Linked DNA regions of Homo sapiens. Each later gene encodes a partner of the first gene's protein in a complex. Each region holds a gene or a part of one and is shown in the gene's direction. Other genes may lie near its edges. The genes, in order: RAI2 and CTBP2.

Region 1 (7,100 bases):
CTTCAGCATTTCTCCTTCTGCCTTGTGATTATGTTTTCAAATGCCTGCCTCATTCACTCAATCACCCAGTAAATATTATTAACCACGAAAACATTTGTAAAACAAAGTTTCCATTTTAAATACATTATTCCACTTCAGTAAAATATAGACCCCTTAAGAAGTTAAGAATCTCTTGAAAGCAATAGACAATTTCCCCAGATGCATTCACACCGGTGAGCATTAAACTGACATCTACAATTTCAGGGCTTTCAGGAACCCCTTGAGAAACCCACATGTTCATAAAGATGAGGTCAGATTGTGTTGGTGTACCCCAGGGTGAAGGGCTCAGCCACCAGCCCAATTCACACATGTCTTCTACAGAGTTCACCAAGTAATACTGGTTCAACCAACACCCGGGGCCTAACAACTCCAAAATCCTGGTCTGCAACTTAAATTTTGAACTCCAGATCTACTCTTCCAAATGCCTACTGGACAGCTCTACGCGGCTAATCAACAGGCACCTCCAATTCGAGATGTCTTAACCAGAACTCCCTGGAGCAGATACTGATGATGCACCACCCACATCCCTTGGGTGCTACCACTTTAATGTGCTCCACAGACATCCAGCTGCCAGGATCTTCTCTCTGTATTTGGGAAGGATCTTCTGCCTATGCTGGGTGGTAGGTTGGAATTGCCAGAAAATCAGCACCCCCTGGACTGCTCTTAACTAGCTTCTTCATCTCTGGAGTGGGTGCTTGGTATCCTGTCCAAGAGTTTGCCTGTGGGATTAAGCTCCAGTTGCTCACAGTGGTAACTGGCCTTGTGAACATGCCTCCCATTGATGGCTGTCCCTCTGGCTTCCTTCCCTCCTCCCCTACAGTGTTTCCTTCAGTTCCCAAATCAACTTTCTGCACTGGAATCCTTGTCTCAGGATATGCTTCTGGGGGAACCTACGACACTTGTCATTGCCAGCCCCAAATCTGCTTCTCTTCCTAGGGACCTCTATCTCAGTGACCACGCCCCCACCCACCCTGTCACCCAAGTCAGAAAACCAGGTGTCAGTCACCCTTACTCCTGTTTCCTCCATCATCAAGCCTTGTTGATTCTGCATCCCAAGTACCACCTGACTCAAGTTCCTACTCTTCATCTCTGCTGGCAGGACCAATCATTGCAACAGCCTCTCTTACCTGGTCTCCCTGCTGCCAATCTCACCTCCCTCTGATCAGCCCACCACACCAACCAACAGAGTGATCATTCCTCAATCCAAATCTTTCCTTGTCATTCCCTTGCTTAAAGCCTTTCAATGGTTCTCACTGACTGCAAGGAAAAGCTCCTTGACAGGACAGACCAGGGACTTCAAGTGACCTGTAGCTTCCCTTTCCCCCTCCTCTACTATTCCTCACAGCCTCTACTCTGGACTTACAAAAAATCTGCAGCCTCTAGATAGTGTTCTGCATCCCAGCTTCAGTTCCCTTCACTTATAATGCCTTTTGTTTACTTTGGAAACTTCTATTTGTCTCTCAGCACTCAGCAACTGTCACCATCTCTGGCAACCTTTTCTGACTTCCCTGCCCCATGCCATTCCCTATTCCTTCCCAGTGCAGGAATAGGCCCACTCCTTGGGTGTTCACCCAGCCTATTTTATAACTCACCATGTACCACACAATGTCAAATTGTATTATTAACAGTTCTTAATAATCTGTGAGCATACTGGGGTCAGAAACCATGTATTCACCATATCTCTAACCCACATCCTTAGCTCAGTGACTGTGCAGCTAGTAGGTGCTTAATAGATGTTTATTGGATAAACAAACTAATCGCTCATCTGGCAAGTATGTGGAAACTCGATTATAAGGAGATGCTGTATGAGAGAAGGAGGATATGGGTAAAAAGAATAAGATCTGGGATGGGAAATTTCTTGGGTACTTATTTAAAATCACCAAATATTACAATTACAGATCTCAAAAATCACCCTGACCCATCCTGGAAGATTTTGAGGTTGTTCTTTCCTGCTGTTTCGGCATGTTCCTTCTTCCCTCCATTTTCTTAGGCACCCCTTTAACTGTATGAACAAAATTATTCCACATTAATGTCCTATTTCTGTCCCAAAGCACCACCCCACACGCACACACAAATCCAGACCCACCCTTTATGAACCTTTTTTCCTTCCCTTTGCAAGGGCAGCCAGGATGAAAAGGCAGAAGGGTGCCACTGTATGTTTATTTGGGAATGGGGGCCATGAAGCCTATTTCTTCTGCATTAATCTGAATCAATATAATCTTTCCTGAAAACATAAGCACCTCAAAGGGCAGCAAATATGAATCACAACTGCCAGTGAGGATCAAACATTAACCCAGGGTTGTGATGAGGCCAACAAAAGAAATAGGCTAGTAATTGCCTTCCAGGATATCAATCCCTACCTTATACACACATACCCCCTCAACACACACAAAACCTTTATGGATCTTTCATCCATGAACTTGCCCAATTATAATTGCCCAGCTGTGTCTTTAGTTGGATTCAGGCTAGGTCTTGGCAACCGAGACCTCACATACCTTATCCAAGAACTTAGAACAGTTATGAGATCTATAGAGGAAGTCTTTGGTTGCTGAAATGATTGAAGACACATTCATAAATATTTCCACAGGTATCATTAATTAGTTGGGGCTGATTTTAAACCCCCCAAAACCTGATTGAAACAAGTAGAAACTGACACTTTCTGTTGATATTCATTATTATCAATTCTTAAACTTGCACTGTGTGTCTTTCCACCCCTGTGTGGTCTGGGTACTTCTTAATTTAACTCTTCTTTTTCAAAAGAGGAAATTCAGTATCAAGGAATGGTACTACCAGGGCTGACTTCTCCCTTAGGCATAGTAGACACAGTGCCTGGGGCTCATGTTTAGGGACCCACATAAATCTTTTAATTTCTTTTAAAATCAGAAGAAAAAATGAATTTTTAGGTTGAAGAAACTGTTTTAATATATAATGCTATTATATTCATCTTTACACAAATGCAATTGTAAAATGTAATTTGTAATATCTTTCTACGGAGGAAGGAGTCCACAAAGGCAAAAGTGCTCAAGACAGACATCATTCAGCCTCAGTTACTACCACCTTATGCTTGCAACACAACATAGTTAGAATACAGCCTTTCAAACACAAGTTCAGGCTCCCATACTAATTATAAACTGTGTTATAAAACTCAGATTTGATAAGAGGAAAGTCATGTTTAATACACACAGTATTGGAACTTCAGGGGGCTCGAGACTACCAAGAACAACTAGATTCATTTTATTCTCTGCTCTGATTAAATAATTTCTGCTCTGCTATTCTCTCTCAAATATCTTCATCCTGTTTTGATTAATAGAAAAAAATCTTTACATCTTTGGAGAATCATTAAACCAATTTGGTTGCTTCCTTGGCTGTCTCAAGAATTCTAAGGGTTTATTGTTTTCAGTTTTAAAATGATCAATAGTACAACTGACACCTACTACTTATTTACTGGTCAGCAATCATACAGTCACCGTCCCTGTAACTCCAGTTCTTTGCCCAGTATCTGGCAAACACTAGGCGCTTAATAAAGGTTAGATTGATACATGAATCACCTCTTGGATGGAAATTACATTACGTAGGTGGACTAATTTGATCTTTCCTAATCTCCCACCTTGTGAGAAGCATCCTCCACCGGTATCACAATTGGCATTTTCGGGTGATCGCTGAGCCCTTCCCACCTCCCCCGCTTCCATCAGCCAGCCACTTCCTCCCTTCTGGGCTCTGTTCCTCGCTCTTCTCCATCCTGGGGTCTGGAATGGTCCCCAGCCCGCCGGGAGGCAGTAGGGTCCCAGCTCCTCCGGCCCTCCCCCGGCGCTCCCCCCAAGGTCCTCCTCCCCGCCCCGACACCCCTTCTTCCTGGCACCCCGCGCCGCCCACGGCCACGCCCTCCCCGTGGGCGAGATCACCTGTCCCTCCTCCGCCGCCGCCTCCTCGGGTACCCTTTCGCCCCCCTCCTGCTCCCCCTCCTCCGCCGCCTCCCCCAAGCCCTCCCCTTCCCCGCCTCCTCCCACCCCTTGGTGTATATAGTAAAGGCCGGGCGCCGCACGCAGACACACACTCGCCAGGACACAGGCGCACACACGCTCACGCACAACCAGCAGCGGCGGCGGCGACAGCGACTCGGTGACAGCGGCGACGGCGGCTCCCACCGCGGCGCACCCCCTTCAGGCGGCCGGCGGCGAGGCCAGACCGGAGAGTTCCAGCACACTCGACCACCCCGCGGCTTCCTGGAGGCGGCGGCCGCGATTGCGAGGTAGTGGCCGCGGCGCCCCCGTGCGGGCCGGGGTCACCCCCGCCCTCCCCGCGCGGAGCTGCCACCGGGACGCAGGGGGCGCGCCGGGCTGGGCGCGCCTGGCGGGGCCCGGCGCCCGGGGAGGGGCCTGCTCCCGGGGGCAGGACGGCGCCCGGAGGCCGGGGCCGGCTGGGAGGGCCGGGCGGGGGCGGGGACGCGGGCCGAGGCCGCCGCCCGTGTGGCGCGCCGGGGCCCCGCTCCCGTTCCCGGCGCCGCGCACTGGCCGGCGGGGCCGGGGACTGCCGGGGAGGCGGCGCCGGCCGGCGGGGCGGGGGCCCCGAAGTGGGTTTCGGGCCGCCGCCCGCACTGGCATCGGGCGCAGAGGGCGGTGCACGGCGGACTCCGCGCCCAGGCACCGCACCGGGCAGTCTCCGGATCTGCCGTTCTGCCCCGGCCCGGAAAACCCGGCGCCTTCCAGGCCCTTCGAAAGATGGATTCTGTTGACGTATCTGGCGGCCCTGGCGAGCCTGGTGGAAAGTTGGGTTTTGCCAGATTGCGCCGGGCTCCTCTTTGTGACGCGCGGCCAGCCCCGCATCCCCCCCGGAGCCGGGTGAGTGTGCGTCGGCGCCCCGGGAGCCCCGGTGCCCCCCAATGCCCAGCCCCGGGGTGGCCGCACCAGCTCGGGCTTTCTGCCATGTTAGGCACCGAGCAACGTTCTCGCTGCATTTTTGCGTGCGTTTCAGTGGCGCCTTTTGCTGCGGAGGGAGTTATTGCTTCTCTCCGCGGTGGCTTTTTCGGGGTTGGGGTTGTGCTCTGTGTGTTTGCTTGTTTGCCATTTAAAGCCCGACTATTGTTCAGGATAAGCTCCGCCTGGGTGGGGAAATGGCATCCCACCACAGTTGCTGGCGAGGGGTAGAAATGTTGCCAAACAGCTGCTGCTTTGTGTTTCCCTATCAGAAGTCCTTGGAGTAGGTTTGGGGCACGACGGATGGATGGAGAGAGGGATGGGGCACGGAAGAAGAAGGTGGCTTTGGAGGAGCGGGTTGTTACCCACACCATGGCACTCACTCAGTCTCCCTTTCTGCCTGCCAAACTTTTATGAATATTCCTTTTGTGGCAGAGGGAAGCTTAATGAATTTAGCCCAGTTTTCCAAGGAAAAAGCAACCCAGCTTTAACAATGGTTTGAGAACTTAATCAATGAAAAAGGCAGGAGAGGAGGACAAGGAGGCGCCGACACCATATCGGGTATGTGGCTGCTGCTTGCAGAGTCAGGTAGGGGAGAGGTGGGGAGGGCACGGCGCAGCGTCTGGGTGACCGTGTTCCCGGAACTGTTGGTAGCTCTCACCTGTGCCCGCTGGTGCCACCCACCGTCGTGCCCCTATGTCGTGGGCTGTTCAGAACCCAGCGATGGGGTTTGAGGGGCGGCTTGCGGCAGTGCGCGGGCCGGCCCCCCTCATCTGGCGTTTTTAAGGATGTGTAAATATTTTGCTGAGGATAAGTGACATCAACAGAATGATATTCCGCAGAGCCCGGGTGTGCAGCGATGATAAATAGATATGGCCAAACAAAGTTTTGATAACCGCGTATTCTCATGGCTCTGTCTGTTTCATTTGGGTCTTTGTTTTTGTTGGTTTAGCATTATCTCGCATCCTCTGGTGTGATCCCTTTATTTAACTGATTCTTGGAAGCTTCTCTTTAGAACAGAGAGAAAAGCAGCCAGCAGGGAGAAAACAATTCTTAGCCTTGCAAGCATCAGGCAAGGTTTTCTGTGCTTTTCCCAGGGAATCTTTCCCACCGTTTTCTGGATGTCTCTCTTGCTCCTTTGGAGTCATCAGAATTGGTTGTTGGTGGACCGAGAGACTTGTGACAACTTTGAAAATGTGGTGTGGACATGCCTTTGTTACAGTAGAGGGGTGGCAAGGTGGGAGGGGGACAATACGGAAGGGGACAGTATGGAGGCTAGTTTTCTTCTCAAACGGGAACATGAGAAGCCAGGGGTGGGCTGGAAGGCAGAGAATTGTAAGATGGTGGCATCCCAGTTTCTCTGCCTCTTACAAGCCCAGAGAAGCCACCTGCCCCCACACCCCCACATACACACAGTCTCCTTCAAATGGGCACTCGCTTCTCGTCCTGACAGATGCCCACTAGAGGCATCCCCAGGGCAGCCCAGGCACTATGAACCAAGTCAGACTGGAACTTGGGGGTAGTGACTACTTTGGCACCAGCCCAGGGGACCATTCAGCCACCCGAGGGGGTTCCTTTATGATGAAAAAAAGCCAAGACCTCCAGTGGTGATGTTTTGCCCAGGAAAACCTGTTCATCTGAGGAACAAATGAAAAGACAGTTTTCCAAGCGATGCCGATCGCTGGGGTGAGAACACGGTTTGGTGGGCAGCTGGGGAAGAACTGTAAGACACATTTCAAAATCTTGTATCCAGAATACAGAGTCCCTGAAACAGGACCATCTGAACTACAAGAAAGAAAAATCAAAGACTGGAAGGTGTGTGAGGAGCTGTTGCTGGGAGTGCTCTAGCTGTAATGACCCAGAAGCTGAGGATAGGACTGGCCTCCCAAATCCATTGATCCAGAATGGAGATACTCTGGATGTGCAGAAAGCCCTGCACAGCGTGCTCCAAATTTATGATAAGAAAATAGGAAACGTCTGTTCTCTGGCTTCTCCCCTAAGCTTAGAATTTTGGAGAGGATGGTAGTGGAGGGAAATAAATTGGGAAGGGAACTAACATGTATTGTTGGCCTCTGTCTGCTAGGCACTTCACATGTGGTAAACCTTCTCAGCCACCCTGTGATGGAAGAATTATTTTACAGATAAGGA
Region 2 (7,183 bases), on another chromosome or scaffold:
AAAGGACCCACCATTATCTAGGGCCACTATCTTTTTTTTCTACAACCATTGGTTCCTGGAAATGAAATAGGAAAGATAGGAAGCTGAGAAATAAGAACCTCGGTTAGAGGTCTTTGATTGTAGCGGGGGAGGCAGGCTGTGATGCAGCCGCAGGCCGGTCCCACGGGCCTTTTTCAGCCCCTGGGTTCCTACAGACATCAGAAGTGCTCCCGAGGAGGTATAAAGTAGGGAAGGAATTATGCCATCCTGTTTAAAGGCTGCCAGACGGAAGAAAATAAGTGCCTTACAAACTCAACGCTCCACACTGGGGCTGTGGATCTCTCTTTTCTTTCACTACTTTTTTTTTTTTTTTTTGATGGAGTTTCACTCTTGTTGCCCAGGCTGGAGTGCAATGGCGCGATCTTGGCTCACTGCAACCTCCGCCTCCCAGGTTCAAGCGATTCTCCTACCTCAGCCTCCCCAGTAGCTGGAAATACAGGCACGTGCACCACGCCTGGCTAATTTTTAGTATTTTTAGTTTCACCGTGTTGACCAGGCTGGTCTCAAACTCCCGACCTCAGGTGATCTGCCCACCTTGGCCTCCCAAAGTGTTGGGATTACAGGCATGAGCCACTGTGCCAGTCCAAGGGTTCCCATTTCTCCACATCCTCCTCAATACACGTTTTTTTCTCTTTTGTTGATAAAAGACATCCCGGTGGACATGAAGTAGTAACTTATCGTGGTTTTGATTTGCATGTCTCTAATGACCAGTGAGGCCAACCATCTTTTCATGTGCTTACTGGCCGTTGGCCATTTGTCTACCTTCCTTGGAGAAATGCCTATTGAGTCTTTGGCCATTTTTGAATTGGGTTTTTTGTTTGCAACATCTTAAAAAAAATAGTATGAAATAATTCACATGTTGGGGGCAAATGAGCTCCATATTTTAAAATGCAGGTAAAGTGAAGTGAGAAATACTTTTCAGCTCTCAGGATGCCTTGCTTTTAATGTCTTCAAAACAAATAATATATTAATAATACTTTCTCGGCCGGGCACAGTGGCTCACGCCGGTAATCCCAGCACTTTGGGAGGCCAAGGCAGGCGGATCACAAGGTCAGGAGATAGAGACCATCCTGGCTAACACGGTGAAACCCTGTCTGTACTAAAAATACAAAAAAAAAAATTAGCCGGGCATGGTGGCGGGCGCCTGTAGTCCCAGCTACTTGGGAGGCCGAGGCAGGAGAATGGCTTGAACCCGGGGGGCGAAGCTTGCAGTGAGCAGAGATCGCGCCACTGCACGCCAGCCGGTGACAGACTGAGACTCCGTCTCAATAATAATAATAATAATTATACTTTCTCTTTTTTTTTTCTTGAGACGGAGTTTCGCTCTGTCGCCCAGGCTGGAATGCAGTGGTGCAATCTTGGCTCACTGCAACCTCCACCTCCCTGGTTCAAGCGATTCTGCTGCCTCAGCCTCCCGAGTAGCTGGGATTACAGGCATGCGCCACCAGGCCTAGCTAATTTTTGTATTTTTTTTTTTTTAGTAGAGACGGGGTTTCACCATGTTGGCCAGGATGGTCTTGATCTCCTGACTTCGTGTTCTGCCCCGCCTTGGCCTCCCAAAGTGCTGGGATAACAGGCGTGAGCCACCGTGCCCGGCCAAGAACATGTTAGTAATACTTTCTAAGTCAGAATTCAAATTTATAGAACACGTGAAAGTGAAGGAGTGATATGGAAAATCAGGCTTTTTGTGGTTTCTTCCTGAGAAAAGAAGACCACTCAGAACCAAAGACTTCTGTGAAATAAGGAAGCAGAAAATCTTTATTTGTAGTTCTTATAGTTTATGCCTAAGAAACTCCGAAGAACAGGTACTGGTAACCCGGTAGCCTGGCGGTGGCCGCGGTTTGTTTACAGCCAAAAACTAGCTGAGGCGCCATGCCCTTGAGGCAAAACTGCTGAAGAGAGAAGCACCCTGAAGATCAGTTTGTGGAGATCCAGGGTTGCCAGAAGACGAGACAACCGTGATTGCATGTGCGGAGGTTCCTCGATGGAAGCGCAGCCCGGCGCGCCCCTCAGCTGGCCTGGCCAGGCCCTATGAAGGTCACGCGAAAACCCTGCTGCGGGCTTCTTAGCGACCGCATTACGTGGACTAGCGGGCAAGAAAAGCCTGGTCGGCGCTGCCCTCACAGGTAGGCGGTCTTCAATCACGTTTTAAAATCTTGTTGAGTGATTAAGCAATCTTCGATAGTCCCGGCCCCTCCACTGCAGGCCGCTCAGGCCGCAACGCACCTGGTGCGCTTTGGCAAACAAGCCCCGCGGCGGGCTGGGGCAGGATTTAAGAAATGTTTAATGAAGACTGGGAGGCCTGGAGCAACGCTCTTTGGGATGCAGAAAAGGGTCGTGCAGCTCGGTGGCCTCTCCTCCGGCCCCCTGGCCCTGGCTGTAAGTTTCCTCGGCTCTGCAGGGCGCGGGGCACTCAGGGATGGAGGAGACCACACCGCGCGGCTGGGTTCGCGGAATGGCGGTCCCTGCGGCCTCCAAAGGCGGGACCTCAGACCCCTCCCACTCCTTTCCTGCTCGACATCTCAATCCAGCTCCTAATATCTCAATAGGGTTTTTAAACAAATCGATCCTAAGGGCTCAGTTCAGCCCACCCAGGGATTCTTGGAGGACGCACGCCGAACTCAGGGTAGTGAGAAGAGTTTGGGGGGCCCTGGGGCGCAGGGAGAAGACCCCACACTCCACGGCCACCAGCTCCCTTCCGGAGACGGCGCTCGGACGTCGCGGGTCACGGGCGGGGAATTTAGCCCAGGTGCTCGTTGGGCCGCGAGCGGCCGCTGGGCCTGGATTCCCAGGCTCGCTGTGCAGACTCCAACCTTGAGACGTCAGGACGGCGTGGGCTCCGGGCCGCCGCGCAAGCCCAGGACCCCGAGTCGCGGGCCCCCACGCCGCAGCGCGCCTCCCTCCTCGAGACCCGGGGCTCCGACCCAACACAGGGCTTCTCAAATGCCCCGGCGAGATCCAGGCAGCAAGAGGGAACCTTTTTTTTTTTTTTCAATGTGTAAGAATGTTTTGCTTCTTTTAGGGCACAGCACTGCTGCAACTTGCAGCACAGAGGGCCCTTCCCTGCGCACCCACAGCGGTCGCCGCCTCTCCGGCACGGTCTCCCGGATCTGGATTTGGGGAGCGCAAGTGCCCCCTGTGGCCGGCCCGCGCCTGACCCCGCGGGCCTGAGAAGGCAGAAGCGGCCGGTGCGGGGCACCAGGAGGAAGTTGGAGCCCGGGGGCCGGGAAGGGGGCTGGTTGGCGCCGCTGGCTGGGCGGGGCCCCATGGGACCGGGGCCACCCGGGGCTCGCGTTCCCCCACGTGGCCGGCTGCCCGGTACCCCACGTGGAAGGGGCGGAGGAGGATGAAGGGCCAGGGGAGCAGCGGACCCCGAGCCACCGCGACAGGACCTCGGCCCCTGCCACCGAGGCCCCCGCGCCTCCCGAGGGCCTCCCGGGCGGGGCCGGGCTAGGGAGTGCCCGCCGCGCCCGGCCCCTGGCCCTCCCGCCCGCCGCGCTTGTGTGCACTTTCGCGGAGCCACTAATCCCCCGAGAGAGCCGATTTGTAGTGAGGAGTATCTGAAGGGGGCGAGGCCGGCCCATGTGGGGTTGTGTCATTGGTTTGCAAAAAGAGACCCCGCCTTTGCCCCCCCCCCCCAAAAACAGGAGCGAGGAGTGAGCGAGCGGCGACCCTCACCTCGCCTCCCGCCTAGCTCCTGCGCAGCCAGCGGGTACCGGGAGCTGCGGCCAGCGCCGCTTCTTTCCTTTCCTTTTCTCTCCGTTTTCCTTCTCCTTCCCCGGAGGAGAAAACAAATAAAGAAGAGCAAATAGCCGGGAGGCGCTCGGCATCCAGGACGTTCCCTCCCCCGATCCAAGTTGGAATTAGCATCCTCTCGGGGGTGAGCGCGGCGCGGGGCGGGCCCGGGCCGGGGACCCCCAGCGCAGCCCCCTCTCGGCGGGCGGGAGGGCGCGGGGCCGGGACGCGGGGGGAATTGGGAACCGGGTGGGCGGAGGAAGGGGGTGGGGTGGGTGGGGAAGTAGGAAGAGGCTCGGCGGCGAGGGGAGGAGGTGGAAGGGAAGGGAGGGGTAGGGTGGGGAGGGGAGGGGAGCGGAGGGAGGGTGGGGAGGGCGGGAGGGGGAGGGGCGGGGAGCTGGAGAGATTAAGTTTTTGTGTGTGTGTCCCTGTGTGCGTGTGTCATTTTAAGGTGGCTCGGGAGCGGCCCGGAGGAGCCGGCGGCGGCCCGAGGAGCGAGGGACCGAACCGGGAGCCATGCCGCGCTGAGGGGGGGCCGCACAGCCGCCGCCACCGCCACCGCCGCCGGGTGGGGTGGGAGGGGCGGGAGACGCCGCCGCCGCCGCCTCCAGGGTGGGCGCCTTTCGCCGTGGACGCCGACCGTCCGGGACGAGGTAAGGGGGGCCCCGGGGGAGGGCTGGGGCCGCCGCCGCCCCCGCCTCACCTGCGGCCGCGGGCTGGGGGCGCCGCGCCCGCGCCTCACTGCGCCACTCAGGGAGGAGGAGGAGGAGGAGGAAGAGGGCGAAGGACGCGGAGCCGGCATCCGAGGACATCTTTGGTCCGTGCCCCCGGCCTCGTGTCCCCCCTCGGCGCCCGGGGGTGGACGCTGGCTCGGGGGTCCCCGCCCGCCCCCGCCACCGATTGCGCCCGCTGGCCGCCGTTTGCGCCAGGATTTTTGTTGTTGTGATGAGAGTTGATGAATGCGAAGTAGGCGGTCACCTTCCTTCCCATCAGGGTTGAAAAAAAAAAAAAAAGAAACCCCGAGCGCGGCGGCGTCCGGAGGGCAGCGGCGGCGGCGGCGGCGGCGTCTCGGCGACGGTTCCCTGGGCGCCCCCGGCTCCTGCTCCCTGAGCCCGGTGGGTGCGCGCCCGGGGGCCGCCGGCGACCCAGGCCGAGCGCGCGACGCGCCGCGGGGACAATACGGCCGGATCTCCGGGGAACAGGAGTCCGAGCGCGCCGGGGTGCGGCGGGCCTTGCGCCTACGAGGCGAGGGTGGGGGGGGCGCGGAGAAGAGGGGTTCCGTGGGGAAGTCGGGGCGTGAGCGGCTCTCGGTCCCCAGGGGCGCTGCCCCTGCCGGCGGGGGATCCCGCGCGGCTCCCCGGGAGCGCAAGTGAAAGACGGGAAAGGAGGCGAAGTGGAACCCTTTTGTTTTGCCGGCCCCGCATTGTTGGCTCCTCCGGGCAGCCGGGCCACATCTGCTGCCGCTGCCGCCGCCGCCACTGCCGCGCGGGGCTCGGCCCGCCAAAGTCGCGGCGGGGCGGGGGGCCTGGGCGGGCCGGGCGGCGGGCGCGGGCGGGGGCCGGGCGGGCCGGGCATTTCCTCTGCCCGGCCGCGCTCCCGCGGGCACCACTTCCTCCTCGCCCGCCGCCGCCGGGAGCCCGGCCCGCCCGCCTCCCCCACCTTCCCCGCCCGGGCCGCACTTTTCGGGTGGGGCGAATCAAAAAGAAAAAGTTTAGCAGGAGGGGCTGGCTAGGGCGCGCCCCGGGCGGCAGGGACCCGGTGCGGCGCAGGGACAGCCGGGCCGCCGCGGTTCCTCCTCCTCCCAGCCCTCCGCGGCGCCGGACGGCCCCGCGCGGCCGAGGGGAAGCGCCTTTCTTTCTCTCCCTCGCGCTGCCCCCAGCGCCCCGGGCGAGTTGGGCAGAGGCGCGCGGGAGCCGGGGCGTGCCTGGGCCTTTCTCCCGCGGGAGGCCCAGCGGCGTGGCGGGTCGCCTGCAGCCCACGCCGCGCCCTGGGGCTCGGAGGCCGCGGGCCCAAGAGCTCAGCTCGGTCACCGCGGGCCGCGCCGAGACACACACGCGCGCACACACTCCCTCCCGTGGCTCGCTTTCCGCCGGCGACGACGGTCGCGGACACGGAGTGAGCGTGTGCGCGCGAGTGTTTGTGGTTGTCCCCCCTCCCCCCGCCCGGTACTTTTTCCGGAGGCGGCCCAAGCGGCAGTTGGCTGCAGAGGACCCCACGTTTAGGATTTTATAGGGAAGAGGAGGAATTTTTCGTAGAAATCCCCGCTCTGCGTGCTCGTGGTGGAGGCTGCTGGCAATGGCCTACGTCGTCATACCGGGCTTCCTTGCCCTGTCCGGGGTAAACAATCCTTCTGTGTATTTACCCCCTTTTTTCTTTAAAGATTGGAGATCGGGTTAAGTTCTTAGAGAGTCTGATGCGAGTGGCTGGAAGGATAGACAAGAGAATTCTATTCTATAAATATGCATTGGGAATTTAAAATGCTAAACGCCTTATTTGCAATTCTGTTGGATATTCTAGAGACTGGTATATTTTTATCTGACATGGATAATTTTGAGGGGACGTTATATTTTGGGGAAGTTTACAAAGTGATTCTTTCTGCCTTTCTAACTTGGGCGAAATATATCGACTCATACCACCCTTTCAAAAAAGATAGCTTTCTCTACTAGGTGTTTGGGTTCGAAGACAGTTTAAAAATTACCTCGTGTTCAGTACCTAAGATTGCTGTTTTGCCTCGAGGGTTTTCCAAGTAGAAGTGGGTAGTTTTCATGTACTTTGAGAATTCTGAGGTTTTTAACCCCCCCCTTTTTTTTTAAATATAAATCTTTTCTATTTTGAAGTAATGAGACTTTAAAGGATCTTGTTTTTGTAATCACTTGATTTCAAAGGATACTTCTTACAGCAATTATAAAGTAATAGTCAAAATGCTAATTAGACATTTTCAGTCATAGCTGCTTTAATGTTGAAACAGAATTTTTTTCTTTAGCAGAGACTGTATCGTAGAGTTGAAACGCTAAATATTCTTTTGTCTGGCATCAGATCTCTGAACTGCTCTGACATTCTCCTGAAAAACCCCTAGTGCCCTTTTTATTGCCCCCAAAAGAAAAGTTAATGAGATGGTAGATTTCAAGCAAAAAAACAGGCCCTCTTTCTTGCAAAATATGCTTACAGTTGCCATTGAAGTTGGATGTTAGCCGTGAATGCACTTGCCTTTAATGAAACCAGTTTAATCGTTCACACTTGATCAAGTATAACATGAGCAAACAAAGGAAATAAGCCAGCATATTTCTGTAGAGTGTAAGTGTTGATGTTGGGTCACCCCCTCCCCCTACCCTGCCCCCCTGTAAAAGGGAGAGAGGGTTGAAGGCAAAGGGAATTTATGGCGCTGATTGGTTTTTTGTGCCCCAGGGGT

Evidence for each region.
Region 2: the proteins of RAI2 (region 1) and CTBP2 are in contact, whole or in part, in a crystal structure (PDB 8ATI), measured with the Homo sapiens proteins. Residues at the interface, in NP_001166210.2 of Homo sapiens: Glu315, Ala316, Leu317, Asp318, Leu319, Ser320, Met321; in NP_001077383.1 of Homo sapiens: Leu35, Arg42, Cys44, Met48, Val57, Ala58, Phe59, Cys60, Asp61, Glu67, Ile68, His69, Lys71, Val72.

The regions. Positions count from the first base shown.
Region 1 is NC_000023.11:17,858,286-17,865,385, reverse strand, and holds the start of RAI2 (retinoic acid-induced protein 2), read left to right. Parts: upstream 1-4,087; 5' UTR 4,088-4,288; intron 4,289-4,480; exon of another isoform or gene 4,481-4,877; intron 4,878-7,100.
Region 2 is NC_000010.11:125,157,563-125,164,745, reverse strand, and holds the start of CTBP2 (C-terminal-binding protein 2), read left to right. Parts: upstream 1-4,182; 5' UTR 4,183-4,427; intron 4,428-4,788; exon of another isoform or gene 4,789-4,889; intron 4,890-5,968; exon of another isoform or gene 5,969-6,111; intron 6,112-7,183. UniProt on the Homo sapiens protein: Corepressor targeting diverse transcription regulators. Functions in brown adipose tissue (BAT) differentiation. Isoform 2 probably acts as a scaffold for specialized synapses.